Homo sapiens: one gene and its partners. The protein of the gene in region 3 purifies or fractionates together with the protein of the main gene of each other region. This does not show direct contact. Each region holds a gene or a part of one and is shown on either strand. Other genes may lie near its edges.

Region 1 (4,186 bases), on a different chromosome or scaffold from region 3:
GCCTGGCAAACATGGTGAAACCCCGTCTCTACTAAAAATACAGGCCAGGCGCGGTGGCTCATGCCTGTAATCCTAGCACTTTGGGAGGTTGAGGTGGGTGGATCACGAGGTCAGGAGATTGAGACCATCCTGGCCAACATGGTGAGACCCCGTTTCTACTAAAATACAAAAAATTAGCTGGATGTGGTGGTGCGCGCCTGTAGTCCCAGCTACTCGGGAGGCTGAGGCAGGGGAATTGCTTGAACCTCGCAGGTGGAGATTGCAGTGAGCCAAGATTGCGCCACTGTACTCCAGCCTGGTGAAAGAGCAAGACTCCATCTCAAAAAAAAGAAAAAACAAAAATTAGCTGGATGTGGTGGCAGGCACCTGGAATCCCAGCTACTCAGGAGGCTAAGGCAGGAGAATCACTTGAATCCAGGAGACGGAGGTTGCAGTGAGCCAAGATTGCGCCACCAAACTCCAGCCTGGGTGACAGCAAGACTCCATGTCACGAAAAAAAAAAAAAAAAAACACATGCTCTTCGAAGCAATCAGGCACTGCAACCATGGATGGGTCCATTTCTACAAACCATTACAGAATGGGGGCCATGCCACCAGGTCAAACGCCCTCACCCAGAGCCAGGCAGTTAGGAAGCCACCACAGGGCTTCCAGGAGGGCAACTGCTATGGTGTGGGTGCCTTGTGTGCTTGCGCTCTTCAGGGGCCCTGCTCCACTTCTGATGCTCCTCAGGTGAGCTCGGTGCCAGGACTACAGCGACACGGACCTCTCACTGCTGCACCCTTCAAAGTCCAGCAGACAACCCCTCGCCCTGGGGTAGGAGCTCCTCTACTCAGCTCCTCACAGCACCTGCCATCAGTGGGGCTGGGGAGGGGAACGTTGCCCATGTCACATCAACTCACGGCTGGCCCCACACAGAAAGGGTCAGCTTACTGGGAACTAACTGGACCCTGAAATAAACGGAAAGAACCACAGCCTGCAAATACCTCTAAGCCTCACTCAAAGCAGGTCATGTTTGCTCATGACCAAATTCCGGAAGACTGGGAGGCATCGGGACAGACTCCAGAAAGGTACTGGTGGCAGGGGACTGGTCTGCTGAGTCACAGCAACCCCACGCTCCAGGCCGTTTGTTCCTGCTGCTCCCTTTGGGATTAACTAGAGATTGAACCGGCTCACCTTGTTTCAGCTCAGGCCCTGCAACCGACCGACCGTCTGCTGGGCTCCAAGTCACCTGAGAGGCGAGGTGAGGTAAGACGGACAGTAGGGGTGGGGTAAGGCAGGCCGCTCTCTCCCATGGTGACAGGGAGCTAAGCTGAGCTGAGCCGGACTGAGCTGCTCTCCTCAGGACTCAGGGGTAGCCCTGCCCTCCCAGCTGGCTGCGATGCTCTAGTGGGACTTTCTGGAGGAACAAACATGGGAAGACATCGGGAAACCTGACAGCTTGGTCAAGAGTCTACTCGTGCCATGTGGGTGGGGGCAATTCAAGGGGTCCTTAGTGAAAAGCAGTTGGGAGCTTCTCATCTTCCCCACGCCCTCCTCTTTCCTGAGGACCACAGCAGGGGAGGGATCTGCCCAAGGACACAAGGTGACTTAGTAGAAGCAGGGCATGATGAAGATCTCTAGCCACCAACATCTGGCTAGGCCAGGGCAAAGGGACCTGGGCCATGACCTGTCTGTTTTATAAACCGAAATCGCTGCAGCCCTTGTCTTGGCATGAGGGTTTCATGGTAGAGCACGATGCCTGCTGGAGGGCCAGCGGGGGTGGGCCATCCCATCCCCAAGGGTCACTGGGGTTAAGGACCTGCCCAGACTCCCTGGGTGGAGCCCTGGGCCTTGGCAGGGGCCCAGCTGGTTCCTGGCCACTGGGGCCAGAGAACCTGGGGGCTGCTGAGTTAGTTCAGCTGAAAAACCAACAAAAGGGCCTCCCTGCTATACCCGGGGGCTCATGAGTCACCGGGGCTTTGGGGGAGTGCCAACATCATCATGACACAGCAAGAATCTTATCAGACCAATGGGGAAGTCAGCCCAGAAATGTTCTGAGGAAAGGGGAGGCGGGGGCCGCTGGGTCATCCCTCCCACAGGCCCATCATTGGGATGCGTCCTGAACGCCCATCAAGCCCATGGCCCTTGTGATCCAGGTGGGGAAACTAAGGCCCAGAGAAGTGAGGACCCCGCAGACTATCAATCCCAGTCTCTTCCCCTCACTCCCTGTGAAGCTCTCCAGCATCATCGAGGTCCCATCAGGTGGGGAAAGATGCTGTTCCAGGCGCACACTAGTCTACAAGGCCAGAGCTTTCTGGAAGGGGGCAGTAAGTACCTCGGCTCCCTTTCTGGTAGGGGTGGGAGTCCTGAGAAGGCAGGAAGTGGCCCACTTGGTAACTCTGAGGTGCCATCAGGGCCCCCAGGAAGGAAGCTGGGTGTGTGGGCAAGTGTGAGGTAAGCTGGCCAGGGAGGAGGAAGGGACAGAGGAAGGCCACGTGGGTCCAGCCTGCCCCAGGGTGTCCTGCTTGCCCAGGCTGTGGGTCTGCCAGCCACTTGCCTGCTTTCAGTTTCTAGGTCATGCTGAGCTTGTTCCCAACTCGGGGCTCCGGGCATTTGCTCTTCCTTCTGTGTTTGTGCTCTCCCGGCCCTCTTTGTGGGATCTATGCGCTTTGGGGGACTGGGGACACAGGGCCCATGTGTATCTTCTGAAACACACGTCAGCCTGAACTCTTGCTGGTCTGCTTACTTGCCGTGGTTCCCTGGCCGCAATAGCACATAGGTCCCATGAGGAGGGCAGGGACTGGCTGCTGTGGCCCAGAAGTACCCAATCGCTGTCTGCTCAATGAACGGAGAATGGGCTGCTTTCCTGGAACAGCAGATTCTAGGATCACGTGCCCTCAAGTGCCACCCTGCCTACCTCCCGCACCGAGTGAGGCATCAGGCGTGGAAGAAGCCTGGGAGCCGGAGCTGTTCCAGGTGCTGCCTGAGCACGCCACCTCCCATCTCCCCCACAGCAGGAAGAGGAAAAAACAAACCACGAGGCTCTTCAGAGAGAGGACCCCTTGTCCCCTACCCACAGTGCTGGAGCTGGCACTTCCTATTTCTGCTTTGAAAGCCTCAGGTTGTCACTCTCAGAACAGAGGAGAGCAAAGGGGAACCCTACTGATTTCAACAAAACAAAGTTGCCCAACCCGAAGCTGGCCACAGGCGGAGGCAGTGAAATGACAAAATCAGCTTGGAAAAGCCTAAGGACCCTGGGCCCTCGTTTCAAAAGCTGTCATTTGCTACACGAAATGCTGAGGTTCAGGAAAAGGAAGACACTTGCTCCAACTCACACAGCAAGCTTGGATGCTCTCAATGAGGTGTCTAATAAGAGCTGAAGGCCAGGAGTCATAAGCTATCATTGTGGCCTGGGTTGCTCTGTTGCAGTGCCTTGTGACAGCATGGGGTGGGGATGGAGAAAGCAACCTCAGTTACCTTCTCCTCCAGTCTGCTTCTTGGACTAAGGGTTTAACGGTCAGAGTCCTGGCTGTTAAGGTTTGTGGCTGATGCAGGTATGGCTCTTTTTATTTTTATTTTTTTGAGATGGAGTCTCACTCACTCCGTCACCCAGGATGGAGTGCAATGGTGCCATCTCAGCTCACTGCAACCTCCACCTCCTGGGTTCAAGCGATTTTCCTGCCTCAGCCTCCCAAGTAGCTGGGATTACAGATGGGTGCCACTACACCTAACTAATTTTTGTTATTTTTTTTTTTTTTTTGAGATGGAGTCTCACTCTGTCACCCAGGCTGGAATGCAGTGTTGCGATTTCTGCTCACTGCAAGCTCCGCCTCCCGAGTTCACGCCTTTCTCCTGCCTCAGCCTCCTGAGTAGCTGGACTACAGGTGCCCACACCAGGCCTGGCTAATTTTTTATTTAGTAGAGACGGGATTTCACCATGTTAGCCAGGATGGTCTCAATCTCCTGACCTCATGATCCACCCGCTTCAGCCTCCCAAAGTGCTGGGATTACAGACGTGAGCCACTGCGCCCGGCCTTTTTGTTTTGTTTTGTTTTGAGACAGAGTCTCGCTCTGTCGCCAGGCTGGAGTGCAGTGGCGCGATCTCAGCTCACTGCAACCTCTGACTCCCTGATTCAAGCGATTCTACTGCCTCAGCCTACTGAGTAGCTGGGACTACAGGCACGCACCACCACGCCCAGCTAATTTT
Region 2 (4,273 bases), on a different chromosome or scaffold from region 3:
TAAGTTTGACTACATAGTCAAGTCCACAAGCCATCAAGCACTCCTACCTTAATTATTGCACTAGAGAAAATAAATTCCAAATTAGGAAGTGTTTCCTAGGAGGAAAATTCCATTAGAGAGTGGCAATAGGATGAGGTTTCTTCAGGGTAAACTAGCAATGCCTGAGCCTGAACCTTAATGTGGGGCCTCAGTTAAATCTCCTGTGGAGTCAAGGATTCTTCTGATTCTAGTGTGTGTTTAGTGATAGATGTAGTCTTGACGAATATTGCTTACTGGTGAGGTTGAGGAATATCACACTCGTCTTTCCCTTTACCACTGTGGTTTTGACTTAAGAAAGCAAAACTCACTAAGTTTACTTCTCGAATTGAAGCAAGTGAGGCCTGACATGGTTGTCATCACTAGTGGCAAATGACCTTCCAAGTAAGCAGATGGGAACTGAATTGTGTTTTCAGGTTTTGTTTTTAGTAGGTGATATTCATTCGTATCCAGCTCTTTATTACATAGCTCTGAAGTTAAAATGATTTACATAGGCCGAGCTGTGGACAAAAAAAAAAGAAGCAGCAGCTTGTAGTATGCTTAAGCTTTGGGGAATTTTTTTTTAAGGGGATCTAAAAAAATGTTTTTAGAACATGTAAAATGTTTAATGGTGAAAGTTGGAAAAGAATTCTTCTGTAAAGTAATACCATGCTAATTATTCGCTTTTAGTAAGTAAAGTAGTGGTTGCTTTAGCAAACCTCTGCTGCCATTTTGCAGGAATCAACCAGGAACCTTTAGCAGAATTGACAATATGGTGTTGATAAGCATGAAATAATAATAGAAACCTATTCTGCTAGTTTATCTCACCCTCTAATTTTTCTCACTAGCATAAATTTTAAATTCCTGATTTGATTTGTCAATAAGATCTTGGCTTATATATGCTGATTTATAGGTAGTGTCCAAATTATATAGTATAACATATTTTTCTAGTTTCAAAATTTAGTAATGTCCTATTTATGATATATCATTTCTGTGTGTTTGCTATGTAGTATTACCCAATTAAAAATCTCTAAAAAGAATTAAAGCATTCTAAGAAAAAGGTAAATTTACTATTGCATGGTACAGAAATTTTTTCTTTCTTAAATACAATGTTACTATAAGCTCACTAAAATGAAACTCTATATGACAAAATAAAATTAGAAAAAAATTTGCCCTGGAGTTGTGAATTATATACAACTTTTAAAGAATTTACCCCAATTACTCAAATTTCCCAGGAAATTACAAAGCCAAAGAATATTCAACTTCCTCCACTGGTCAAAAGAGGATAGGAGTGAATTACTGAACCTAGAGCTATTTTGCTCTGTAACAACAGATAAGGCTAATATTTTAAAAGCCACAGTATACATCTTCTTTTAACTCTGTAGAATATGTAAAATTTTGATAGTCTGTAGTATGCTAAATGCAGAAGTATAAATAAAGTCATTCAAAGGGAGTCTTTTCTTTTTCTGACACTTAGGGGGCCACATTAAGGATGGGTAATCTTTCCAGGAATAAAGTCAAAAGGTATTTATTAAGACATACTTGAGTATGCCTGGGTCCAGGAGTTTTAAGGAATAGAAATAAGTATTAATGAATTAATTAAGTAATTTATTAAAGGGAATGGTAGCTGACCACAGGAAACTTGCTTACTGTTTTGATATGAAATATCATCACAAGCTTTTCTTAAGACATCTGATATCTTCCAGAGATATTTTTTAGGTTGTCTTGCAAACAACAAAATCACTGTCTTTAATAACTGTTGCTGTCAAAATCCATTGGTTGTTAAGATCCCCCCAATTTAGTTACATCTGAACTCCTAAACACTGTTAAACGATGGGAAAAACAAGAAAAAACATGGCCATTTGAGTCATTGAGTCATCTATCTTTCTAGGAAGATACTTTCTAACCAAACTTTTCTTCCAGGATTGCAAATTGATGGGAAAAACAAGAAAAACTGAAGTATTAGTCACCTATCTTTCTGGGAAGATACTTTCCAACTAATTTTTTCTTCCAGGATTGCACACTGATTTTCCATTTAGTCCTAAATTTTAAAATTCCCTTTTCAAGACATCAACGATTTTAGTAGTTATTTAAAGGCATGTCATTTTTCAATGAAGAAGTTTTGGGCAGAACTTCATTCTTCTTCTTAGATGTTTACTCTAGATCATATACATCATGTCATAGACCAAGAAGAGATATGGAAATTATTTTATAAGTGAATACTATAATTAGGATTCAAGCTGAGTTTCAGATCAACTTGCTCTTAACAAAAGGAAAAAGAAATAGTAATTTAATACTATGTATGTATGGTTTGAAAACAAACCACAATGTTTATAAAATATCTATCTGACTGTCTAAAGAGGTAATCTTTAGGAGCAAAAATCAGTGTATTATAAATACTTTACCATTTAATATCAACCAAAATACCATCTCAAGCTAATTTTGACACTGAATTACAGATATATCTGCTACATATTATTTACTTCTAAGCATGTTGTCTGATGTAATTGCATTTGCACTGAAAAATTAAAAGAAAAAGTACATATTTAGGGTTATTTATATATCTTCATCTAGACATCTGTTCTACATTTGTGTATAAAGTTTTTAGCATCATAATTTTTATTCAAGAAAATGTTCTGACAAAATTTTAATTATATGTCTTCAAAAATTACATTTTTTACTCTAGTAAGTAGATGTTTTTAGTTATCTGGCAATTTATTTCTGAATTTATACCAATGTTTGATTGTCATGGTACAAAATATATGACACCCTTTAACTTTTGCTGGAGTTGAAAGGCATTATAATCTTTAGCATAAATGGCCATGACTATTTTGGAAAGACATTTAAGACCCAAAGCAAACTTTTAAAAGTATTTGCCACATTTTCCCATGCCTATTTCATAAATTCCAACTTTTTTTTTTACAATTTCTGGATTTTTAAGACCCATTTCACATTGCACTAGGATACAGCAGTCCACAGTAGAGTGCTACTCTCCTTGAAATCAAATCTGTCTTCCACTTCCGGATTATTCAATTTATGTTAGGACAAATCTTGACTAGATCAACCTGTTTTCCATCAGATAATTTTAAAACAATGTGTAATCTTGTTTGTCTACATTCTCTCCCCAGTTTAGCTGTATTTGAATTACTAAATGCTTTATCGTCAAACTGTACCTAGTCTAACTTATTTTTCTTTTGCTGTCGTTTTACAAGCATTTTAAAATTCTAATATTCATCTCTGGTGGTGTTTAACACAAGGTTCTCTTATTCAAGTTTCAATATAAAAGTTTTTGGATTATTTGGGTGCTAGTTTCTTGCTTGGTTATCTGTTCGTTTTTTTAAGTTGATTTGTAATTTCCAAAGAGTTATGCATACAGCAATAAAATTATTAATATGCCTCCCTTATCTTTTCTGAATTGTAAGCAAGGGGGAGGTTTTAGACTGTAAAACCAAAGTTATCAAATCTAGTTATTATCATCCTGTATTGGAGGAGATACAATTCTTTTATTTTCACAATGTTAAAATATGTTTTCATTCTCCATTTCCTAGCTATCTTTTTTTAATGTGTACTGAGGAACCTACTCTCTGGACCACTAATTATAGATGCTAGAGCCCAGCCTTGACCAGGTGGTTAGCCCCACAAATGAACAGATGATAAAAAGCTGCATTTTTAGTTCTTATTTAATACTTGTAGCATCTTTATACTTTTACCTTTCTTTCTTTCATACTCTGCATTTTTATTTTTGCCTACACCAGCATTTTATTTCTTTTAAAATGACTTTTCTTCTTTTTTGCCCTTTAAATCATACCCTTTCATCTTTACTGGGATGCATCTCCTTTTGTTCTCCAATGCCACTTCCAGACTATTATCAACTTCATCTTGCACAAAATCTTACCTCTTTCAGACTTGTATGATCCTTTCCCTCTCTTCTCTTCTTCATAATGTCTCTACTTTTAATGAAGGCTCCAATATCCTGGCCTAAAGTCTTTTGTGACTTTCTTAACTTCTGAGAGTGTTCATAGTAACTTAAACATCCACGTGGATGAATCACCCAAGGCCCAGATTCTCATTTCTAGACCTCCATTTCCCCCCTCCACTCAGCTGTCATTTCTTTTCATAACCTGGCATATTGGTACCTGGAATGCCTCAGTTTCTGTCTCTACAGCCTCTGACCATTTCCTTCTCATCCTTCCAGCTCATGGGCTCACATTGTTGTCATTACTCCATTTCATCAAAGCTTCAATGTGTTGACTCCCAC
Region 3 (4,703 bases):
TGAGAGGGAAATTAGGTCCTAGAAAAGAACAAATAACCTAAAAAGATGTTAAAAAGGGAGATATATTGAATTGAATATTGAATATAAAATTTAAAATTTTAAATAGACAAGCAAGCAGTAAGATGAGTCAGTAAACTTATTTCATTGCAAAAAAATGGCCACCTACCAACCAAAAACAGTTCTGCCTTTGAAAGAGTCAACTTTTGATACTCTGGAAGTCAGAATAAAAGGTGTCTCACCTATTATGAAAGGGCAGGCTATAACTGGAAAAGCTACAAAAGAAGAGGCAGTCCCTACCAAGGCTGATATCAATACAAAAAGAATCTTGCCAGATCTGTCCCATACCTTGTCCCAAAAAAACAGGTAAGATTGGCTAAACTCAAATTCTTCAATATTTAACTTTTTCATGAATGGAAGCCTCATAACATTCAGACAAGAAAAGATCCAGCATCGCCCTGAAACAAGAAAGCACATCAAGAAATTATGAGGGTTCACATAGACTGCACTGCTCCAACTGTATTTCCCACCAATGAACTCATGACACGATCTGGACAATTCAGAAAGAGTAAATCAGAAAGAGCAGAAAGATTAAAAACAAAACAAGAAAGGTGGTAATTATTATTAGCAATATATATGCAAAGGTTTAATATCTTTAACACAAAAACACTCTTTACGTATCAAATAAAGAATCCATTTTTCAGAGTAATGCCTTCTCCAAATTGTACTCTACTTCAAAATAAATTAACTGAGAGCGCCATTAGAAAAGTCTTTTAAGGTCTTAAATACAGGGAAATTATCTCTTTTCTGAGGGAAAATTCTGAGGGAAAAACTTTGACTTGTATTGGGTATAACCTTTTTACTAATATGAAAATATGTTTATAATATATTGGTAAGTGAAAAAGATAGGTAGCTTACATAACAATGTATAAGGTATCAATGCATATTAAACACTATTAAACACACACACACACACAAAACTTGACAAATATACAAGAAAAATATTTACTTGGTATTTACAAATATTCTACATTAAACAAAAATAATTTTGTAACAAGAAGAAAACTCTAGTTAACTATAGTGTTTTATGAAAGTCACTAGTGCCTATTAGTTCGTCTTTACCTTACATTTACCTGTATGTCACCTCTCTTCTATATGCTATATATTTCTAGTAGAGGGGATCTGGATGCACTGGTGATGTGAAAACTGCATGAAAATAAACTACACAACTCACATGCTATTTGGATCTTTTGTATGTAAAAGTGACACTGCAAAATGTGTAAGACCTGACCTGTTCCCTAACGGGTCACTGCAATCTAAACTATGTAGGACCACTGTGACATTACTAACTGGATCATCTGTAGCCTGAGAGCCCACACCACTCCAAGCACTTTCTTCTAAAGCAAAACATTAATTATTGTAAGGTCTTGACTTTTTCCTTAACATTTAAAAAATCAACTTTATTCAGGTATAATGTACATACAATAAAATGTACTCACGTTAAATGTGTGCTTTGTGAGTTCTAACCGACTCTAAACAAGCACTGATGTGCTTCCTGTCCGTATAGATAGACTGGGGGGTCGTTTTTAAGTATAGAAAGACTTTAAAAAATCCGTTTAGTACAATTTTGTTGTGAGAATGTGCTCCTTATTTAGATTGCTGGATATCCAATCTTTCACTATACCTGTTTTTTCTGAGAGTGGTGCTAGAAAGCAGATAGCAAAACGAGACTTCTTGACCAGCAAGGCATGAGAACAGAACTTTTTTCTGTATTACAAACTGATCTACTGGTGGGAACTGAGCCCATCAGCACATTAGCTTCAGTTGTAACCAAGAAGCATATTTAAAAGTAACATCTGATGACATTTTAATGTAATTACATTGTATCTTTTCTATTTCATAGTATAGGGCCTTCAGGGCATTTCTGGGGAGTCCTCCAAAGATATGAACATTTTCACATGTTCTGTTTTGTGACCAAGACCATACATCTCCAAGACACGGGCTACAAACCACACAGCATTGGAACATAATATAGTCAATTACACTCAAACGTATACTCATGGACATGTCACTTTTGTACTCTAACCGCATGTACTAACAAGCCACAGAACAGCAAAACAAACCACATGGGTAATGTTCTTAGACCTGCCTGTACCTGTGCCTCATTCTTTACGAATTTACGACCAGTTCTTTCAGTACGAATTTAAGACCACTCTTAAATAAGACACCAAAATGGGACGCTGTCAGGAAGGTCAAGGAACGTATGGGAGAAGTGGAAGCCCACACCTGAGCTCTTCTGGTTGGTGATTGGCTTGCCCTCCTGGGGCACGGCGTGCTGGAACACATGCTGCGCGCGCTGCACCGTGGCCCGCTTCAGACAGATGTCCAGCAGGTCGTGGGTGGTCCCGACATTCTGGGCAAGTACGAACTGGGGGTCGGAATTCAGTTTCTGTATCAGAGCAGCTACCTTCTCCGAATTCAGTCCTGTTGGGAGACCAAACAGGATTTTAACGCAAAAAGAGGGGGAAAGGGCTGATCTGGGGCTCCCGCGTCCCGAATCTAACTTCGTAAGCGCATCCTGGGGTGCCCGCTGCAGCGGGGAAACCCATAAGCGGCATCCTCCTCCAAGGAGCTGTCTCCCTCCAGGCCGATCCAGCCTGCCCCGAAAGCTCCCTCCCCGCCATCGCCAAGGGTCCCAGCCCCCGGCCTTCCCCGCCGCCGGGCCTCACGGGGACCGCGGAGCTCCTCCAGAGGACCGCGGCGGGGGACGGCGGCACCTCACCCGAGCTGCTCATGGCGCCCACGCTGCCCGGCGGGGTAACGGTAGCTTCCAGGGTCCTTGGGCGAGCGCCGGGATTGCGCTGCGGCTCGCTGCCTAGGGGGCCCGACCTGTCTCTCGCACCCGGAGCGCCGGAAAAAGGAAACCGGCTCGGCGGCGGCGGCGGCGGCGGCGGCGGGGAGGCTGAGGCTGGGAGAAACGGGGTCCGCGGAGGGACAAAACTCCCCCCTCGCGTTGCTGAGTCAGCGCCGTCGGGGCTGGCCCCGCCCGGGGGAGGGCCGACGGGGGCGGCCTAGCTGACGCGCTGGGTCCGCCAGCGCCCGGGGGCTGAGGCCGCGCCTGCCCCCGCGCAGGACCGCACAGATGGTCTGCGCGCCAGGGCGGCGCCGGCGCCTTCTCCCCCTAGGTTCCCGCCTCCGGGCCGCGCGGGCGCCCTCCCGGGATCAGGCCCGCTCCAAGGAGGGAGGCTGACGGGTTCCCTGTGGGCCCAGACCCCCAGTACTCTAGCATCGGGGAATCGTCCCCAGGAAGCCTTGTGAGAAGCCAAAAGGGAGCTCGAGGCGGGAGGGAGGAGCTGAGAGGTCCCATAATTAAGCGTCGGGCTTAGGACGGGTCGATATGTCACAAGGAATGCACCCGAAGGCTCTTCCTATAGGCTTCGTTTGCTGACCAATCACTGCATTCTCAATGGCAACTTGTTGCTTGGATTCTCATCAGAAGCAAATAATTGTCTTTGAGGGGGAATGGGAACCAAGCTCTTCCCCACCCACTCCAAAGCTACTACCAGAGTTCTACAAATAGACATCTGCTCATTTCAAGAACACTACCCATCTGGTCTTCACGGAGTCCACGAGTGGCTCCTGTATAGTCCAGCATGTCCCGTTGGGTTTAACTCAGGAGGATGACAGAGGCTAGCCGTATGCATCAATATTGTTTCGCCGAGTTCTCTACAAAACTAACTGATGCTCCCCCTCTAGGCTTTCAAGATAACTCAACAGTTTCCCAAAGTTTTGAGATTGTAAAAACCTTGTTTTTGTTGATTCCGTGTTTCATGCCCTGAAATCTCAGCCCTTAGTAAGATGCTGGGATAGAACCCACAGAGAGTAAAACAAAAACACTGAAACCCTGTATCTGCTATTCAAAACGATGAGGTTGAGTGTGTGTGTGTGTAACCTAGAATCTAGGTCTTCTTAGATTGAAAATCATCGCAGTTCTAAGGAACTCTGATATCTGGAAAAATCCATACTCAGGCACCAATCAGTCATTTGAGAAAGCACGGTTTCTATGTCCCTAGAGAGACTCGGCTAAAAATTGGGGCTATAACATAGCAACTATCTTAAGTGGGCCCATCAACCATCCTATTCTGAGGTTCTTTCAATATCTGAAAAAGAAGAGGCTGAAAATTATACAGAAAGAAATCACTGGTCCTTTCACAAAATGATGTTCAAGCATCCTGCCCAATTCAAGTCATAAATTTTTATTCAGTATCTAACATGTACTAGGCACTGGACAAACTGCTGATGACATAGAGACGAACAAAGCTTAATCTTGCCGTTAAGAAACTCAATGTAGTAGGAAAGAGATGCAAAACAACTTTTAGACTATCTGTAGTAGCATACCAATAGTGCTGTAGACTGTAGAAGCAATGAGGAGAGCACTGTCAATTAGGGCCAAAGGGTGCCTGAAAATAGAAGTGACAAGAGAGCATGATCTTGAAGAGTGGATGAGATTTTTACAAGTCAAAGAACAGGAGAAGGGCATTCAAGGCACCAGCGAAGGCGCAGTGAATAAAATCATGTTCAAGAAAGGGTGCATCATAATCGGATGTGGCTAAGAGCAAGGCATGTTTTGGGAGCAGAGGCAAGGTGTAGGACTGGAAAAGTTTTGTAGGTTTGGGCCAAGATATAAAGGGTTTTATGTTCAATGC
Region 4 (3,373 bases), on a different chromosome or scaffold from region 3:
TCATACTAAGCTAATTAATGATAGGCTCAAAAAATGCAGTATACTTATAAAAAGCCGCTTTCATAAAGCCAGTGCTTACTAAATGTTAGCATATCAAAGTGGGAGAAACACTGCCATTTTAAAGCAATAAACTTAAAATTTCAAGAAACAGCCTATGAGAAATAGCACTTCCTATACAAATTAGGTATAAAAAAATTACCAAAAATGTATTATAGTCACAATCACAGTCTTTGGAGTAGTACGTAGAAAGTCTGGTTTTGCTTTTGTCTTTTAAAAAAGAGTAAATACATAGCAAAGTTTTATTTTCAGCAAGTTCATCCTCCTGTTAGAACACAAATAATTCCTGGTTTAGGGCTTCAATTAAAAAAAACCCCGAAAAACAAAACAAAAACATGCAGAGTGCTATTCCTCAACATGGCTGTTGGAAAATTTAACTCCAGGAAGTGCAATGAGTGAGATCAGGCAAAACTACAGTAAATACACACTCACCATAACTATAACTTAGTCCCAAAGGAATGAACAATCCTCTATACAAGGTAAATGGGGTGAAATGAGAAAATTGGTGACCTGTGTTTTATCTTTCTTTTATATAGGATGGATAACGCATTCTTTAGGTCATCTACATTAAATGTACTTTAGAAACAAAAATTTACTTGATATTTTGACAAACCCACCCTTCATTCCTTAGGTTAATTTCTGTGTTAATTTTTACATTACTAATCATTGTACTGCTATAGCTAAGTCAACTAAAAATCAGTTATGTAGTGTTGCTCAACAGATGTACAAATAGCAAGCTCTATGATTACGTAAAAACAAGCTTTTTAAAATAAAGAATGCAATAAAGTTCCAAATGAATGGCACAGGGCAAAACACATATAACAAACGTATTTAGACAGAGTATCAGGTGCCCATCAGTTTCTCTTCTAAAGATAAAATGCTTGAGGAAGGTCTTGAGAAAACCCTCACTCCCTCTAAACTTTTAGCTTCTACATGGTGTCAGATGTTACAATTGGTATGAAGGATAAATGCTTTTAGGCAAAAGTAAAAATCTATCTACAAAGCAATATAGCAAAATCTGTAGTGACTTTTGTAGAAAGCTCTCTTCTCTGGTGGTAATATTCGTTAGTACATATCCAGGATAGACTAAATTGAAACAATATTTCTGATACAGTAGCAATCCTTTCATATACTCTTACTAAATATTACAAAATTCCAAAAAATACATAAATATTTCTTGTACCATGCATTATGCACCAGTTTGGGGCTGCCTGATAAAGTCGTGGCTACTATTTTTAACAATTAAACATTGCACCTCAAAAGTTCTGCCATCTATACACAGTGAATGGACACAATGGTGAGGGCTCCTGAGAGATGGCAAGCTACCTCTAAAGTGAAAAGTTTGTGGTGGAGTGTCTCCAAATTAAAGAGAGGGGAACCCGGGTAGGGGAGGTAGCCAGGGTAAAGGATTTTAAAATAATACTGCTTAGGAGTGTATATTTTAAGATAACTACTATACCTTGTCTATCCTTGATCCTAATCTTCAATAACTGCATGTTCGTGCAAAATACAATTTCTGCTCTACAGGAAGGAGTAGCCTGTTAGGAAAAGCGTATTCTTAGGGGAAGACATGAAGACATCTCTTTTACAAACGCGATTTTACTTGGTGAGTCTTTTGGCTACATCACTATATGCTATTTCAACCTCCTTATCACTGGGACAGGTATTGGTGAACTCGTCCCTACTGTATGCATTAGTTAGGTATCTCCAGATGCCAGTCATTTCTTTTGGAATATCAAAGTTGCGATATTTTTTGGCCACCACCTGAAATACAAAGAGATCAAAAGTTAACAGACTTATTTCCACGTCTTGTAAACTAGACATATCTCTGATTTTGGAGCAAATAATTAATGCTCTAAATCTTTGAGAACTGCTTCTATATGAAAAAAAGTCCATCACCATCATTCTAACCAGAGTTTTAAATAATGACCAAGACTGCAAGCTACACCAGGGATTTAGAAGTGTGACAGTGACTGCAAATAACTGCCTTGGACATCCAGAAAGACAGCCAAGTATAATCACTGGAAAATACTTCACAACACACATATGCTATTTTAGATCTGTTTTTGTTATCTTAGGTCTTTATTTACAACTAGCGCTTATTATTATTCTATTTAACAATGTGCCCAGCCCAGTGTCTCATATAATAAATGCTCAATACTTTTTGCCTTCAATAGAGAAAGCAAGGTGTGATCACAGAACAGAATTTGATAACATAAGTCAGTGTGGCAAACTCCAATTCAAAGTCACGCATTATATCTTTGAATTTGTATGCAGTCACAGAAAAAAAAATATTCATCTTTCTTATATTCCTCAATTTTAAGACATAATTTTCCATTTAACTAACTCTAGGGTGCTTCAACTATTGCCTAAACAGCATTGAGTTAAACAACTAGTCATATAAAATCAGAAATGTTTTGAGCACAAAGGAAATGCCACTTTAGTAAATACAATACAAGGTAATGGCAATGCGACATCAACCCCTACAGACCTACCTTGACAATATGCAGTTTGGGCAGCAGGTTGCAATCAGCTAATGTCATTTCATTGCCATCCAGAAATTTACGTGTAGAAAACTTTATGTCCTCCATACTATTTTCATCAATTTCATCAGGGAGAGGAGAATTCAGATATTCATCCAGTTTCTGCAGGGTTTTCAGGAGACCCCTCTCCAGTGCTTGGGGGGGAAAAAAAGAGATGAGAATACTGTAAGAAGGAAAACCACTCAAGTCCCCAAGGAGAAGCAGACTCTTTGAGTCAATAACTGTTTAAAAATGTTTACTCTGAAACAAGGTACTGTAGAACAAAACAGACAAGGCTCCTGCTCTCCTAGAGCTCAATTAGGTGGGGCAGGGGATGAAACAAGTTTGTTCAGGTAAAAGTATAAATAAGCATAATAATGTCAGGCAGTGGTATTTGTAAAAACTTGCTAACAAATGGCCGGGCGCGGTGGCTCACGCCTGTAATCCCAGCACTTTGGGAGGCCGAGGCAGGCAGATCACGAGGTCAGGAGATCGAGACCATCCTGGCTAACACGGTGAAACCTCGTCTCTACTAAAAATACAAAAAATTAGCCGGGCGTGGTGGCGGGCGCCTGTAGTCCCAGCTACTCGGGAGGCTGAGGCAGGAGAATGGCGTGAACCCGGGAGGCCGAGCTTGCAGTGAGCCGAGATAGCACCACTGCACTCCAGCCTGGGCGAAAGAGCGAGACTCTGTCTCAAAAAAAACTTGCTAACAACTAAATGTCCCACACATGAACACAAATGGTCCAACACATTTGACATTTAAACTGGAAAAATGGATGAGAAAAGGCAAG
Region 5 (4,186 bases), on a different chromosome or scaffold from region 3:
TTGCAGGGAAATTATCTTACCCTTTAACATTTGTTCCTTCACTATTTTAACAAAAAGCCTATAAGAAAAATAATAAATTCAAGGCTATTACTAAAAGCTTGAATAAAAATAACAACAAGCCCTATGCTCCAATCAGTAAACTCGTTTCTTGGAATAAAATCTTCATTTGTGGAAATGGAATGATGTCTCTTAGTAGACAGTGTTCATTTAGGGTGTGATACTCTCACTTTTAGAAGCAGGAAAAATTACTAAATATTAATATGTGAAAAGTAAGGACTTTCCTTCTGAGGGATTATTGCTTTATGGACTTGACTTTGTTTATCCTTATAGTATATCACTGCCTTACATAACTGTGGATATGATGCCCAGTTTCTAATGATTTGTCCAAAATCGTCTGAGAAAACCAGGCCAATACAAATATAGTGAAAACCTCTTGAAAATACAATTATTATAGACCCACATAAATAAAGTCTAATCTGAAGTCTGATAGCTGATTTTATGTTGAATATACGTCTTTTAAAAAGTGTTCTTATTGAACATAAAATGTAAAATAACATTCTGGAAACAAGTATAAATATTACATTTATTCTGAGTCCAGATACTTTCTAAACTGTAGAAGTGCAGGATGGATTTGACTTATCCATTAGTAATACAGACTCATGAAAAGTTATGCTGCAAAAAATGCTGAACCTCCTCTGATAAATGATCTTTAAGATGGAGAGACTGAGGAAGCTAAGTGAATGTTCATGTTCACTGCTGTAAATTTTCCTTATAATTGGTAAAAAGGCTACCCATAATAGAATTCACATTTTCAATGAATTTATAGTTTATCATCAAATAGAGTAAATGAATTAAGATTTCATTTTTAAAAATAAAGAGACATATTTATTTGTAATAACTCTCTTTTTTTGGTAATAACTATCTTTAACAATGCTATTATTTATTTTTACCCATGGGGAATGCATAAGTACAAACATTGTTAGCTTATTTAACATTTATTAAAAATACAGACTCTTTATACTAATGCAGAAGGATAAGCCTCTTCTTCCCACTCTAAAAATCTCTTCTTTGCTGTAAAGAATTCTCAGTGCATGTGAGCTAAGACTCTGGAGCACTCAGTAGAGAGGTGTGTGGGATGACCAGACAGAATCACTAGGTTTTCTCTGTTTTCAACTAGCTGAAAATAGGAACTCTAGTTCTAAATATTCAAAGTCTAAATATTAGAAAAATAAGGAGAGGGGATATGACAAAATGCTTTTCAAAATACATGCCTGAGGTGAGACTGCTTGTATGTTTGCATGTGGTAGCTTCCAGAGGAAATCTTCAGTTTTAATCTTCAGGTTCATATCTGGAGATATAAATTAAGAACACAATGTCAGGATACCTTTTGTTGTTGTTATTACCAAATAAGTTTACTTGAAGCAGTGGCACTATATTTCTCACTTCAAATTACTGTTACGGTAGAAGTTGGACACATTCAACTTTGTTTTGATGGTGACTCAGAGGGGATTTTTACATCAGGTAGGAGGATAGGCCAGATCACTGCTAAGGCTCCAAGTCTGTATATTTGGCATTTAGACCTGTGATAACTTCATATAATTACCTCAATCATCATGTTGACAAGAACAGTTGATACGACTATATGAGTAAAGGGCTAGCAAATCTACTTCTCTAAGGACAAATCTCACCTTGAATTCCCTTTCTAGCTCTGCTCCCCTGGAACTCTGATAAAGGTAAAATGTCAACTCAGTTTCCAGGCAAAACATCTGATGACCACATCTGGACCTGGAGGACTATGAATGAACTATAAATACATGGTGGGAGCCACCACTTTAGGTTTCCCCCTGTGCGATGAGTTCTTTTAACTGGACATACCCTTAACTGGGTATCATGTGACTGCTAAGAGAGATACTAATCCTATGTAGAACACGGACTTCTAAGCCAAGCTGGCTATGACACCCATCTGCATGAATCTCATTCTCTCCAACTTAAACTGTCATTTAGGGGAACAGTAAGACCAGTTCTTGGACTGCTTAGAGTATACCACCAAGGAGAAGAGAACTACCTAATGCTGCCCTGCGAGCTTGCTGTGTTTCCTGTCTGACATCCTGCTAAGTGAATCCATTGCCAAGAGCAGCTTACTGTAGGCCTGTGTGAGTCTAAAGGCCTAGATGAACCTAAAAAGAAGCCCTGGTGGGCATTATAGATAAGGTCAGGCCAGAGCTCCTCCACTTTCCTCAAATGAAGGCTTCTGGACTAAATGATCCAGCAACTACCACCGGCTTGACCTCTCTGGAACAAGCTTAGATTTAACAGAGAACAAACATCAATCCAGAGAGAGAAATCCAAAGGCGGGATCAGTGTGGCTTACTGTGCCAGTCTTTTCCTCAGATCTTTGATTTGGTCATTCTTCTTGGTAAGAATCTCTTTCATGTTTCGATAAGCTGCTGTTTGCTGAAATTTCTTTTCTAATTCCTGCTTAGTAAAAAATGTCAGCCCATTACTAAAAAAATAGTTAAGGAAAGAGATAACAAATGCGATAAAAATATGTAGTTTTTTTTGCTTGAATTTTACTAGTATTTTGCTAATGATTTTCTAATTTCCTTAAAGGACACATTTATATAAAACTAAGACTATCCAAACTTTAAAAATATATTCTTTCAAATGAGAAGCCATAAAATAGTAACATTTTCCCAAGTACAGTGTTGGTAAATAACTCAAGCCCTGGATATGATAAATCTATTTGAAATATTAAACTAATTTTCCTGTAAAATAAGCACACTTTTTTCCCAAGTCCCATAGTAGTGTATTTTAGCAAAATGATTTTTAATTTAGTTAAATTTTAGCTCCCATATTCTTTTTTCCCATTTTTTATATGAAAAAATTTTTAATTTTTTTATAGAGATGGGGGTCTTGCTATGTTGGCCAGGCTGGTCTTGAACTCCTGGGCTCAAGCAATCCTGCCATCTTGGCCTCCCAAAGTGCTGGGATTACAGGCACAAGCCACTGCACCCGGCCTCAACTCCCATATTCTTAAGAGTCTAATCCCCAAAGTGAAGAATCTAGCTCTCTACATATTTTATATAAATTATGACAAAAGTATAGAAGTCCTTAAAAAAAACAGTCCCTCATCCCTCTGCAGGCTGTGGGAAGAAGGAGCAGAAGAGCAACATGGTGGGATGTAGGGCAGGATTCAAGCCACCTACAGAGGAGCATTTCACTACACCATAGAGGGAGAGGAGATGTCTTATTATCACAGATATTTTAGTACCAAAGATGGAAGAATATCAGTGCCCGGAAATGATTAATCTTTAGAACATATTGGCTAATACCTTGAGAAAAAATAATCTGAATTTGCAGTTGTCCAACGTTTATCTTAGCCACATGTATTCCTCTATACTGTGTGCATTAATCATGCATTAACAGACAAATCCCTTAAACATGGTCTTCTGACCTTTTCAGCCATGTGCAGCTGCTCCTGAACCCTGAGTAGATCGTGCTTGGCTGTCGCCAGATTCTCCTCCAGTGACTTCTGGTTTTCTGTCTTGTCATTAAGTGTCTTCTGAAACTCACTCTTTAAGGCAGCGACAGTGTTTTCTAAGTTACTTAAGTCTTGGGCCTTTATAAAATCCTATGAAAAATAAATGCATGCATGTAATTTCATGTTGATATTCTAAAAATAACTGTTTTAGAATGGTGATTCAACATCATAGGAGATGAAAAAAATGATGTATGTTTTGTGTGCATGCCAGCCTCCCTTGCCAGCCTAGGTAAGTGCCAGCCCCTTCAGAGTCACCAGCAGGCCAGTCCATTGTCAGCCCTGGGTACGTGGTGTCTTGCACACAGCCGACACTCAGTAGCCACTGAATTCCAAATACATAAAATATGATTTGTGAACTGCTGGTATTTCCATCCAAGATGTGTGTACCAGGGTTGAGATGGCAAACAGGTTTCATTTTGAAAAGCCAAATTTAAAAAAATCCTCAAAGAAGTTTGAATTCTTCAAAATGATAGAAAAAATGATAAAAGTAATATAATTTATACCAAAAACTTAATAGACATATGTTTTAGTCATTATTTACAAGGAAATAATATGAGAGCACAATTACTGATTACATGGTTTTCTAAATTTTTAAGATTTTAAGTTTTTTATATTCATGAGATATGTGTAATTTTTGCATACTTT
Region 6 (4,722 bases), on a different chromosome or scaffold from region 3:
CTGCAGCGTGTTTTATCAGCAAGGTGTTTATGACTTGTATTTTGTGCCGACCTCCTGTCTCATCCTGTGACTTAGAATGCCTTCACTGTCTGGGAATGGAGCCTAGTAGATCTCAGCCTCATTTTACCCAGCCCCCACTCAAGATGGAGTTGCTCTGGTTCAAATGCCTCTGACATTAAGACCAGCTGGCTGTTAACCTTAACTTTAGCCAAGACAAACCCCAATTCAGTTACTTACCTAGGGATGGGTCTTAGGCTGTAGACTGCTCTCTACCATTCTAGAAGCAGGAAAAAAGACCTCATCTTCCCTGTTGGAAGCGAGCTCAAACTCCATAAAGGAGTTACCTGCCTTCCATTGTCATGGAAGCAGGAAACCTTGCCTTCCTTGTTGGAAGCAAGTAAAACTGCAAAGAAAAGAGTTGTACAGCAAAATAAACTTTAGATCTCCACCAAATTTTGGGAGATCAGGGAGGCTCTGGAGGGGGTGCTCTCAGACCTGGGCTCACTCTTGTAATCCCAGCACTTTGGGAGGCCGAGGCGGGTGGATCACCTGAGGTCAGGACTTCAAGACCAGCCTGGCCAACATGGTGAAATCCCGTCTCTACAAAAATGCAAAAATGAGCCGGGCTCGGTAGCTCACGCCTGTAATTCCAGCACTTTGGGAGGCTGAGGCGGGCGGATCACCTGAGGCCGGGAGTTGGAGACCAGCCTGACCAACATGGAAAAACCCTGTCTGTACTAAAAATACAAAATTAGCCAGGCGTGGTGGCACATGCCTGTAATCCCAGGTACTCGAGAGGCTGAGGCAGGAGAATTGCTTTAACCTGGGAGATGGAGGTTGCCGTGTGCCGAGATCTCGCAATTGCACTCCAGCCTGGGTAACAAGAGCGAAACTTCGTCTCAAAAAAACAAAACAAACAACAACAACAACAAAAAAAAAAACACGAAAAATTAGCTGGGCATGATGGCGTGTGCCTGTAATCCCAGCTACTCAGGAGGCTGAGGCAGGAGAATCGCTTGAACCTGGGAAGCAGAGGTTACAGTGAGCTGAGATTGGGACATTGCACTCCAGCCTGGGCGACTGAGTGAGACTCAAAAAAAAAAAAAAAGCTAAGGCGGGGAGGGGGCCTTCCAGGTCATAGGTAGATAAGGGACAAATGGCTGCATTCTTTTGAGTTTTCAATTAGCCTCTGCAAAGGAGGCAATCAGGTGTGCATTTAACTCAGCAGAGGGGTGACTTTGAATAGAATGGAGGCAGGTTAGCCCTAAGCAGTTCCCAGCTTTTCTTTTCCCTTTAGCTTAGTAGTGGGGCCCCAAGATTTATTTTCCTTTCACAAATGTGTATTTTGATACCCATTGGCATACTATGTATATTATTGTATTATACTATGACATTATCTTGTGTATGTACACGATGTACTTATTTGTTAATCGTCTCCCGTCTTCCTCACACCTGTACCCCTCCTCTCCTGTTGACAGAGAACAAGAATTTTGTTTTGTTCGCTGCTGTATCCGCAAAGCTCCCAAAGTCCTCCGAATGCCGCAGGCTCTCAGTAAAGACCTGCAGGAAGAAATAGCGAATGAATGATGTACACGTGTAGGAAACAGCGGGCTCGGACGCCTGGCTTCTCCGGCTGCCCTAACGCCCTCCAGCTCCAGGTGAGGTCGGGGAGCTGGGGCCAAGGCTCGTGAGCGCCCCTCACCCCCACGCCCCCCGGCCGCGGGCGCTGGAGCCGGCGGCTGCGAGCACTCCTTTGAGCGGCGCTGCACTCAGCGGAGGGTTACAGGCGGGAGGGCGGGGCCTGGAAGGGGGCGGGGATTCGAGGCGGGGCCTGCGGGGCGGGGCCTGGGCCAAGCGGCCCGCAGGAGGCGGCGGCGGCCGTTCAGTCCCTTGTTCCCCGCCGCCGCCGTCGCTGACCCAGCCCGCCAGGCGCTCCTGACCGTCGCTTCCTCCGGTCCCAGGTCCCCGGCCCTCGCCTCAGCCCCGGCCCCTGGTCCCCAGCCCTCGTCGCAGCCCCGGCCGCCCGCCGCCGCCATGTCCAAGGAGGAGCGCCCCGGTCGGGAGGAGATCCTGGAGTGCCAGGTGATGTGGGAGCCTGACAGTAAGAAGAACACGCAGATGGACCGCTTCCGGGCGGCTGTGGGCGCCGCCTGCGGCCTGGCGCTGGGTGAGAGTCGGGCGCGCGGCCGGGCCTGCGGGGGATGGGCGGGAGCCGTGCAGGGTGGTTGGGTGGTCTCCCCATGGCTAGTTTCACGCTTCTGGGGCTGGAGGAGCCACTTGATGGCGGGGAGGCCTTCTGACTGCGGGGTTCCCCCCAGTCTTGGGGAACATCACCCCTCCACAGCACCTCCTGGCACTTCCTGACTCTGCAGCGTCTCCTCTGCATGTGGGGGTCACCCTCTCCCCGGGAGTGTCACCCCTCGGGAGGGCCAGCTGCCTGTTGACCGTGTGACCCCTTGCTAGGCTTTCCTACCTGTGAGGTGCTCCCTGGAGTCTTGACCTCCGGCCTGTGGGGGCTTCCCCCGGACATAGGGCCTTTTTGACTTGCAGCTCTTCCTCTGTTTGTGGGGGTCCCTTGCCAGTCCCCAGTGCCGTGCACTCTGTCCCCCTGACCTCCCTCATCTCCAGCTGCCCCTGCTGGAGGCCAGCACCTAGCAGGATGGTCAGGCAGGAGGCCCTGTCCACGTGTCTACACTCCCAGCCCCCAAACAGAACCTAGTAAAAGACTCTCTTTCCACCCATCACCTTGAACCTCAGAAACTGCCTCTCTCGGTGCGGGTGGGGCAAAGGCTCCTTCTCCGTGGGGTAACCGCTCCGGGTGCTCTTCCTGAGCTCTAGCTGGCTTGCCCAACTACCAGCTCCACCCCTCCACCCTGCCTCCCCTAGGTATTCCTAGGGGATTTTTTTTTTTTTTTTTTGAGACAGTTTCTCTCTCGTTGCCCAGGCTGGAGTGCAATGGCGAGATCTCGGCACACTGCAACCTCCGCCTCCCGGGTTCAAGTGATTCTCCTGCCTCAGCCTCCCGAGTAGCTGGGATTACAGGCATACACCACCACGCCTGGCTAATTTTGTATTTTTAGTAGAGACGGAGTTTCTCCATGTTGGTCAGGCTGGTCTCGAACTCCTGACCTCAGGTGATCCGATCGCCTTGGCCTCCCAAAGTGCTGGGATTACAGGTGTGAGCCACGGCGCCTGGCCTCCTAGGGGATTTTTAACTCATGGTCTCCCCTCCTCACCCCCTCCGCTGGCGCAGGGACTCCCTTGTTTCTGTTGGTGGCGTCACTGTTCTTGCTCAGGCTCACAGGGATGGACACCCCAGTCACCTGTGGCACCAGAAGTCTTCTGCCACAGCCCCATGTCGCTCACATCTCCTCCTTTGCAGCCCCTTGTCAGGGGTTCTGGGGCCTCCTTTCCTCCTCACCAAACAGTGGTTGGTTTTCCTGCTTCCTGCTTTTCCATCCATTTGCATCCTGCTTGCTTTGCCAGAGTAATCTTGAAGCATACAGGTCTTACTTTGTCACTCCTTGGCTCAGAAGTTCTCAGTGGTTCCTTGTTGACCACAAAATTGCAGACGGCTGCCTGGCAGCTTCCAGGCCCTCCACAGCAGTGGGGAGCTTCCACAGAGTCATTTTCCTAGGCTAACCCAGAGCTGTTCCTCTCCTTCCCTTCCTCTCCCTTGGAGACAGGTGTAGTCTGTTGCCCCAGGGGCTTCTGGACAGCAGTTGGTAAATGAGTATGTGTTGGATTAGGGCAGCCTGGAGACTCCTGGAAGAAGCAGGAGGCTGCCATGTGGGATTATGTTCTTCCTCTGTGTCACCTTGCCTTGATTCCATCTGTTTCCTCTGCCAGCAATAACAGAATGCTGGTCTGGTGCCTGTCTAGCCCTGATGTTATGAAATAATTTCAGATCGGGCAGCCCTATTAGATGGGTGAAACCACCTTCCTCCGTGGGAAGTGTTGAAGAGAAGGGATTTGTAATCTGACTATCTGGATTTTTTTTTTTTTTAAGCCTCGCTTTTCTCCCCCAGGCTGGAGTGCGACGGCGCAATCTCGGCTCATTGCAACCTCTGCCTCCTGGGTTCACGCAGTTCTCCTGCCTCAGCCTCCCGAGTAGCTGGGATTACAGGTGCCTGCCACTATGCCCGGCTAATTTTTGTATTTTTAGTAGAGACGGGGTTTCACCATGTAGGCCAGGCTGGTCTAGAACTCCTGACCTCAGGTGATCCACCTGCCTCGGCCTCCCAAAGTGCTGGGATTACAGGTGTGAGCCACCGTGCTCGGCCGACTACCTGGGTTTTGAACTAGCTCTACCACTTACCAGCTGTGTGATCAGGAGGAAGTCATTGGATCTCTTCATGCCTTGTTTCCTCATCTGTAAAATGGGCATAACAGGACCTGAGTCATTGAGTGGGTGTGCAGGTGACAGGAGATGGTCAAGCCCAGTGCTCAGCTCTGCCCTGGGTCCCTGGGGTTGTGGAGTAAACATGAGCAAGTGCTGGGAGGGCCCGAGCATGGCTGCGGAGCTCCTTTCCCTCCTTCAGGGCTCTCAGACTGGTGGCCCATGGGCCAGGTCTCATCTCCAGACACACTGTTGAGTTGCCTGCATTTAAAAGTTAGGAGAGGGGGCTGGGCGTGGTGGCTCACACCTGTAATCCTAGCACTTGGAGAAGCTGAGATGGGTGGATCTTTTGAGCCTAGGAGTTTGAGACCAGCCTGGGCAAC
Region 7 (3,843 bases), on a different chromosome or scaffold from region 3:
GGTGTGGTGAGCTTGGAGGAGTCAGTGTCATGGACTTATGGGGGGAGGGTTAGGGAACGGGGCAGGTGGGTATTCTTGTCCTAAGATGAGAGACCGTTGTGGCCTCTTCCTATACCATAGTTTGTATGGAATCCTTGGCTGGGCATTTTTTAAATAATTTGCAATAAAAACATATAAACATTAAAAGAAAACAGTTTGCCCAAACATTGTTTATATCCAAGGGGGATTTGTTTATAGAAATTTATCTCCCATACTGTGGCTTTTAAGAGTCCCTGCATTTGGGAAAGTTGTTGGAAAGTGGGCTTCTTAGTTTCTGTATTGAGATCTGGCTTGGATTTGGAGCTGAGGGAAATGGAGAGGGGTTAGGAGGAGGCTCAGCCCCCTCCGCCTGCACCCTTCTTGGCCTGGGCGGTGGTCCCAGCTACCTTTTGTCAACTCACCTCTGTCAGAAGTTCCAAGATATGTCCTTTCCTCTTCGTGAACACATCCACCAGGGTCTGGATAAAGCATGAGCCTTTCTGATCATGTCGGTAGGCGATGTATCCTGGGAATTCCAGAGAGGTGGGTTCGGGGGAGCTTCAGAGGGTAGGTAGAGGGGATCCTGGAAGGGCGTGGGTCCTGGAGGAGAGGTTCAGGAGTTGGGAGTGGCAGGAGAGGGGGAAGAGCAGAGGGATCCCTGGGCCAGCTGGGAGCTCATACCCTCTACCGTGGAATAAACGTGCAAGGCATCTGTGTATGTTGGGATGGTTTGTGGGCTGTCTTTGATGACCATCACAATCTCATCTCCACCTACTGTTTCACCGGGGTCCCTTTGTTCTGAAACAACAAGAAGAGGAGGAGGCAAAGTCAGAGAGAAAGGTAAGGAAAGGGGCTGGGCAGGGTGGCTCACACCTGTATTCCCAGTGTTTTGGGGGGCTGAAGCAGGAGGATCACTTGAACCTGGGAGCTTGAGGCTGCAGTGAGCCATGATTGCACCACTACACTCTAGCCTGGGAGACAGAGCGAGATGTCGCCTCTTAAAAAGAAAGGTAAGGGCTGGGCACGGTGGCTCACACCTGTAATCCCAGCACTTTGGGAGGCTGAGGAAGGCAGATCACCTGAGGTCAGGAGTTTGAGACCAGCCTGACCAACATGGTCAAATCCCATCTCTACTAAAAATACAAAAATTAGCCAGGCATGGTGGCTTGCACCTGTAATCCCAGCTACTTGGGAGGCTGAGGCAGAAGAATTGCTTGAACCTGGGAGGTGGGGGTTGCAGTGAGCCAAGATTGTGCCATCGCACTCCAGCCTGGGTGACAGAGCAAGACTCCGTCTAAAAAAAAAAAAAAAAAAAGGATGCTTTTGTGGTATGCCATGTGCAGTGGGGCTTTTTAATTTAATTTAACTTTTTAGAGACAGGGGCTTGCTTTGTTGCCCAGGCTGGAGTGCAATGGTGTAATCATAGCTCACTGCAGCCTCTTAACTCCTGGGCTCAAGTGATCCTCCTACTTCAGCCTCCTGAGTAGCTAGGACCACAGGCCCATGCCACCATGCCCTTGGCTAATCTTTAATATTTTTCATAGAGCTGGGTTCTTGTTACATTGCTCGACGCTAGTCTTGAACTCCTGGCCTCAAAAAATCTTCCCGCCTGGGCCTCCCAAAGTACTGGAATTACAGGCATGAGCCATGGTGCCTGGCTTCAGCTGGGGCTTTGGATCTGGGACTGGCTTGGATAAAAACACAGACTTGGTTGGGCATGGTGGGAGGCTGAGGCAGGAGGATTGCTTGAGCTCAGGAGTTTGAGACCAGCCTGGGCAACATAATCAGACCCTGTCTACAAAAATTAGCCTGACATAGTGGCGGGAGCCTGTAGTCTCAGCTACTCAGGAGGCTGAGGCAGGAGGACGGCTGGAGCCTGGGAGATGGAGATTGCAGTGAGTTGAGATTCCGCCACTGCATTCCAGCCTGGGTGCTGTCTCAAAAAACAAAACAGAAACAACAAACCACAGACTCTGTGCTCTTGGATCTGTCCCCACCTCCTCGACAGGCCTGTATGATGTACACCTTGGGCTTAGCTCGCAGGGCCTGGCAGTTCTTGTTGTTCAGGGCCTCGAAGAGATTCTCCAGCTTGACCATCTCCCCATCTTCTCCCTTGAGGAAGCCTTCCCTCCCGTGAGCCATGAGTACCACGAAGGCACAACTGACGGGATCTTCCCGGGAATCGATGGCCTGCTGGAATTTTTCCAGCTCTTCCTGGAATTGCTGGAGTGAGAGGAAGAACCAGACTCAGCTGGGTCCCCATAGCCTACACTTCCAACCTAGTACCTTTCCCCCAAACAGGCCTGGAGTAGGCACCCCAATACCTCGGCAGTGGGGTCTCTTTTCATGGTGCTTTCGAATCTCAGCTGCCGAAACATGTGTTCCAGAGCATCCAGGTCTTCTTCGGAACCTTCCCGGGCTTTGGTGACACACAGTATTAGGGCCAGGCGGGCACCTGACATATCATATTTCTCCTGGGGCCAAGAGAAGACAGAAATCAGCATGGAGAGGTTCAAGGAGAAGCAGATGTAGTCAAAAGAGGCATGCAGGCTGGGTGTGGTGGCTCATGCCTGTGATCCCAGCACTTTGGGAGGCCGAGGTGGGAGGATTGCTTGAGCCCAAGAGTTCGAGACCAGCCTGGGCAACATAGTGAGACTCTGTCTCTACAAAAAATGAAAAATATAGCTGGGTGTGCTGCTGTGCATCTGTGGTCCCAGCTACTTTGGAGGCTGAAGTGGGAGGATAGCTTGAGCCTGGGAAGTTGAGGCTGCAGTGAACTATGATCTTGTCACTGCACTCCAGCCTGGGCAATAAGTGAGACCCTGTCTCAAAAATGAACAAACAAAACAAGAGAGGCTTGGGCTTAGGGTTGCCAGGTATAATAGAAGATGCTCAGGTACACTTAAATTTCAAATAAAAACCAAATACCTTTTTAGTATAAGTATATCCCAAATATTGCATGGGATATACTTATACTACATAATTATTTGTTGTTGATGTGAAATTCAAATTGAATTGGGTGTCCTTTATTTTTAGTTCCCAAATACAGCAACCCAACCTGGGGTCCAGCTCTTTTCTAGCTTGGTATGAACTTGGGGGAAGTCACTGCTCCCATCTGAGCCTCAGTTTCCAAATATAGACAATGAGTGTGTGTGTGATTTTGAAGATCCCTTCCAGTTGTCGTATTTTGTGGATTTGCAGGTCTCCTCATCCTCCCCAAGAGTGTTCTGAGCATTCCTCTATTACCTCCTCACTTGCAGAGGTCTCAGAGTTTCTGAAGCTAATACTGAGATCCCGTCTGAGGAAGAAGAATATTGGGGGTCAACAGTTCTTTCCAGAACAGAAGCAGCGTACTGAGCACCCCAGTGGTAAGAACTTCATCTTTTAAAAAATCAACATGAAATTGTTTATTGCAGGACTTCTCAGAACCTTTAATGTGTTGAGAAGAACTTGATCTTTGGAGACAGAGGTAGCTGTGTTTGACTGCCCCCACCACCCAACCCAACTTCGGTTCCATCTCTGAGTCTTTTTTTGCTGTTTGATTGACTACAAAGTACCTCCTAGCTCTGAGTTCAGATCATGATTTTTTCAGTCCCTCCACTCTTTCCAAAACATTAAAATCCTCACCTTCCTTCTCCCCAGATGATCACCCTCCCCTCAACCTGCACCCAGCCTACCTCTTCCAAAGACCGCGGATTGCTCATTTCTCCTTTGGTTGTGAGTCCCGGCTCTCAGCACCCTTGTCTGATCCTTGGAGTCAAGAGAAGATAGGTTAAAGTTCTCTAAAGGGAGGCCGAGGGGCTCAGGGGACAAACTGGCTTATGT

Evidence for each region.
Region 1: the proteins of BLMH (region 3) and G6PD fractionate together in Homo sapiens (co-fractionation; one large-scale study listed by BioGRID). This does not show direct contact.
Region 2: the proteins of BLMH (region 3) and DSG1 purify together in Homo sapiens (affinity purification with mass spectrometry, with the first as the bait; one large-scale study listed by BioGRID). This does not show direct contact.
Region 4: the proteins of BLMH (region 3) and CLIC4 fractionate together in Homo sapiens (co-fractionation; one large-scale study listed by BioGRID). This does not show direct contact.
Region 5: the proteins of BLMH (region 3) and LZTFL1 fractionate together in Homo sapiens (co-fractionation; one large-scale study listed by BioGRID). This does not show direct contact.
Region 6: the proteins of BLMH (region 3) and AACS fractionate together in Homo sapiens (co-fractionation; one large-scale study listed by BioGRID). This does not show direct contact.
Region 7: the proteins of BLMH (region 3) and CASP14 purify together in Homo sapiens (affinity purification with mass spectrometry, with the first as the bait; one large-scale study listed by BioGRID). This does not show direct contact.

The regions. Positions count from the first base shown.
Region 1 is NC_000023.11:154,540,147-154,544,332, forward strand, and holds part of G6PD (glucose-6-phosphate 1-dehydrogenase), read right to left. Parts: intron 2,307-4,186; coding exon of another isoform or gene 2,118-2,306; exon of another isoform or gene 2,066-2,117; intron 1,246-2,065; exon of another isoform or gene 1,092-1,245; intron 1-1,091. Other genes in the region: IKBKG (NF-kappa-B essential modulator), read left to right, coding at 2,118-2,306. UniProt on the Homo sapiens protein: Catalyzes the rate-limiting step of the oxidative pentose-phosphate pathway, which represents a route for the dissimilation of carbohydrates besides glycolysis.
Region 2 is NC_000018.10:31,355,836-31,360,108, forward strand, and holds the end of DSG1 (desmoglein-1 preproprotein), read left to right. Parts: 3' UTR 1-3,411; downstream 3,412-4,273. UniProt on the Homo sapiens protein: Component of intercellular desmosome junctions. Involved in the interaction of plaque proteins and intermediate filaments mediating cell-cell adhesion.
Region 3 is NC_000017.11:30,289,028-30,293,730, forward strand, and holds the start of BLMH (bleomycin hydrolase), read right to left. Parts: upstream 2,918-4,703; 5' UTR 2,793-2,917; coding exon 2,780-2,792; intron 2,482-2,779; coding exon 2,284-2,481; intron 456-2,283; coding exon 346-455; intron 1-345. UniProt on the Homo sapiens protein: The normal physiological role of BLM hydrolase is unknown, but it catalyzes the inactivation of the antitumor drug BLM (a glycopeptide) by hydrolyzing the carboxamide bond of its B-aminoalaninamide moiety thus protecting normal and malignant cells from BLM toxicity.
Region 4 is NC_000001.11:24,839,221-24,842,593, reverse strand, and holds part of CLIC4 (chloride intracellular channel protein 4), read right to left. Parts: intron 2,735-3,373; coding exon 2,553-2,734; intron 1,822-2,552; coding exon 1,657-1,821; 3' UTR 1-1,656. UniProt on the Homo sapiens protein: In the soluble state, catalyzes glutaredoxin-like thiol disulfide exchange reactions with reduced glutathione as electron donor. Can insert into membranes and form voltage-dependent multi-ion conductive channels.
Region 5 is NC_000003.12:45,824,985-45,829,170, forward strand, and holds part of LZTFL1 (leucine zipper transcription factor-like protein 1), read right to left. Parts: intron 3,632-4,186; coding exon 3,455-3,631; intron 2,476-3,454; coding exon 2,372-2,475; intron 1,349-2,371; coding exon 1,330-1,348; 3' UTR 1-1,329. UniProt on the Homo sapiens protein: Regulates ciliary localization of the BBSome complex. Together with the BBSome complex, controls SMO ciliary trafficking and contributes to the sonic hedgehog (SHH) pathway regulation. May play a role in neurite outgrowth. May have tumor suppressor function.
Region 6 is NC_000012.12:125,063,551-125,068,272, forward strand, and holds the start of AACS (acetoacetyl-CoA synthetase), read left to right. Parts: upstream 1-1,884; 5' UTR 1,885-2,034; coding exon 2,035-2,167; intron 2,168-4,722.
Region 7 is NC_000019.10:15,052,131-15,055,973, reverse strand, and holds part of CASP14 (caspase-14 precursor), read right to left. Parts: intron 3,769-3,843; 5' UTR 3,723-3,768; coding exon 3,696-3,722; intron 2,493-3,695; coding exon 2,343-2,492; intron 2,242-2,342; coding exon 2,016-2,241; intron 817-2,015; coding exon 700-816; intron 619-699; coding exon of another isoform or gene 545-618; coding exon 441-544; intron 1-440. UniProt on the Homo sapiens protein: Non-apoptotic caspase involved in epidermal differentiation. Is the predominant caspase in epidermal stratum corneum. Seems to play a role in keratinocyte differentiation and is required for cornification.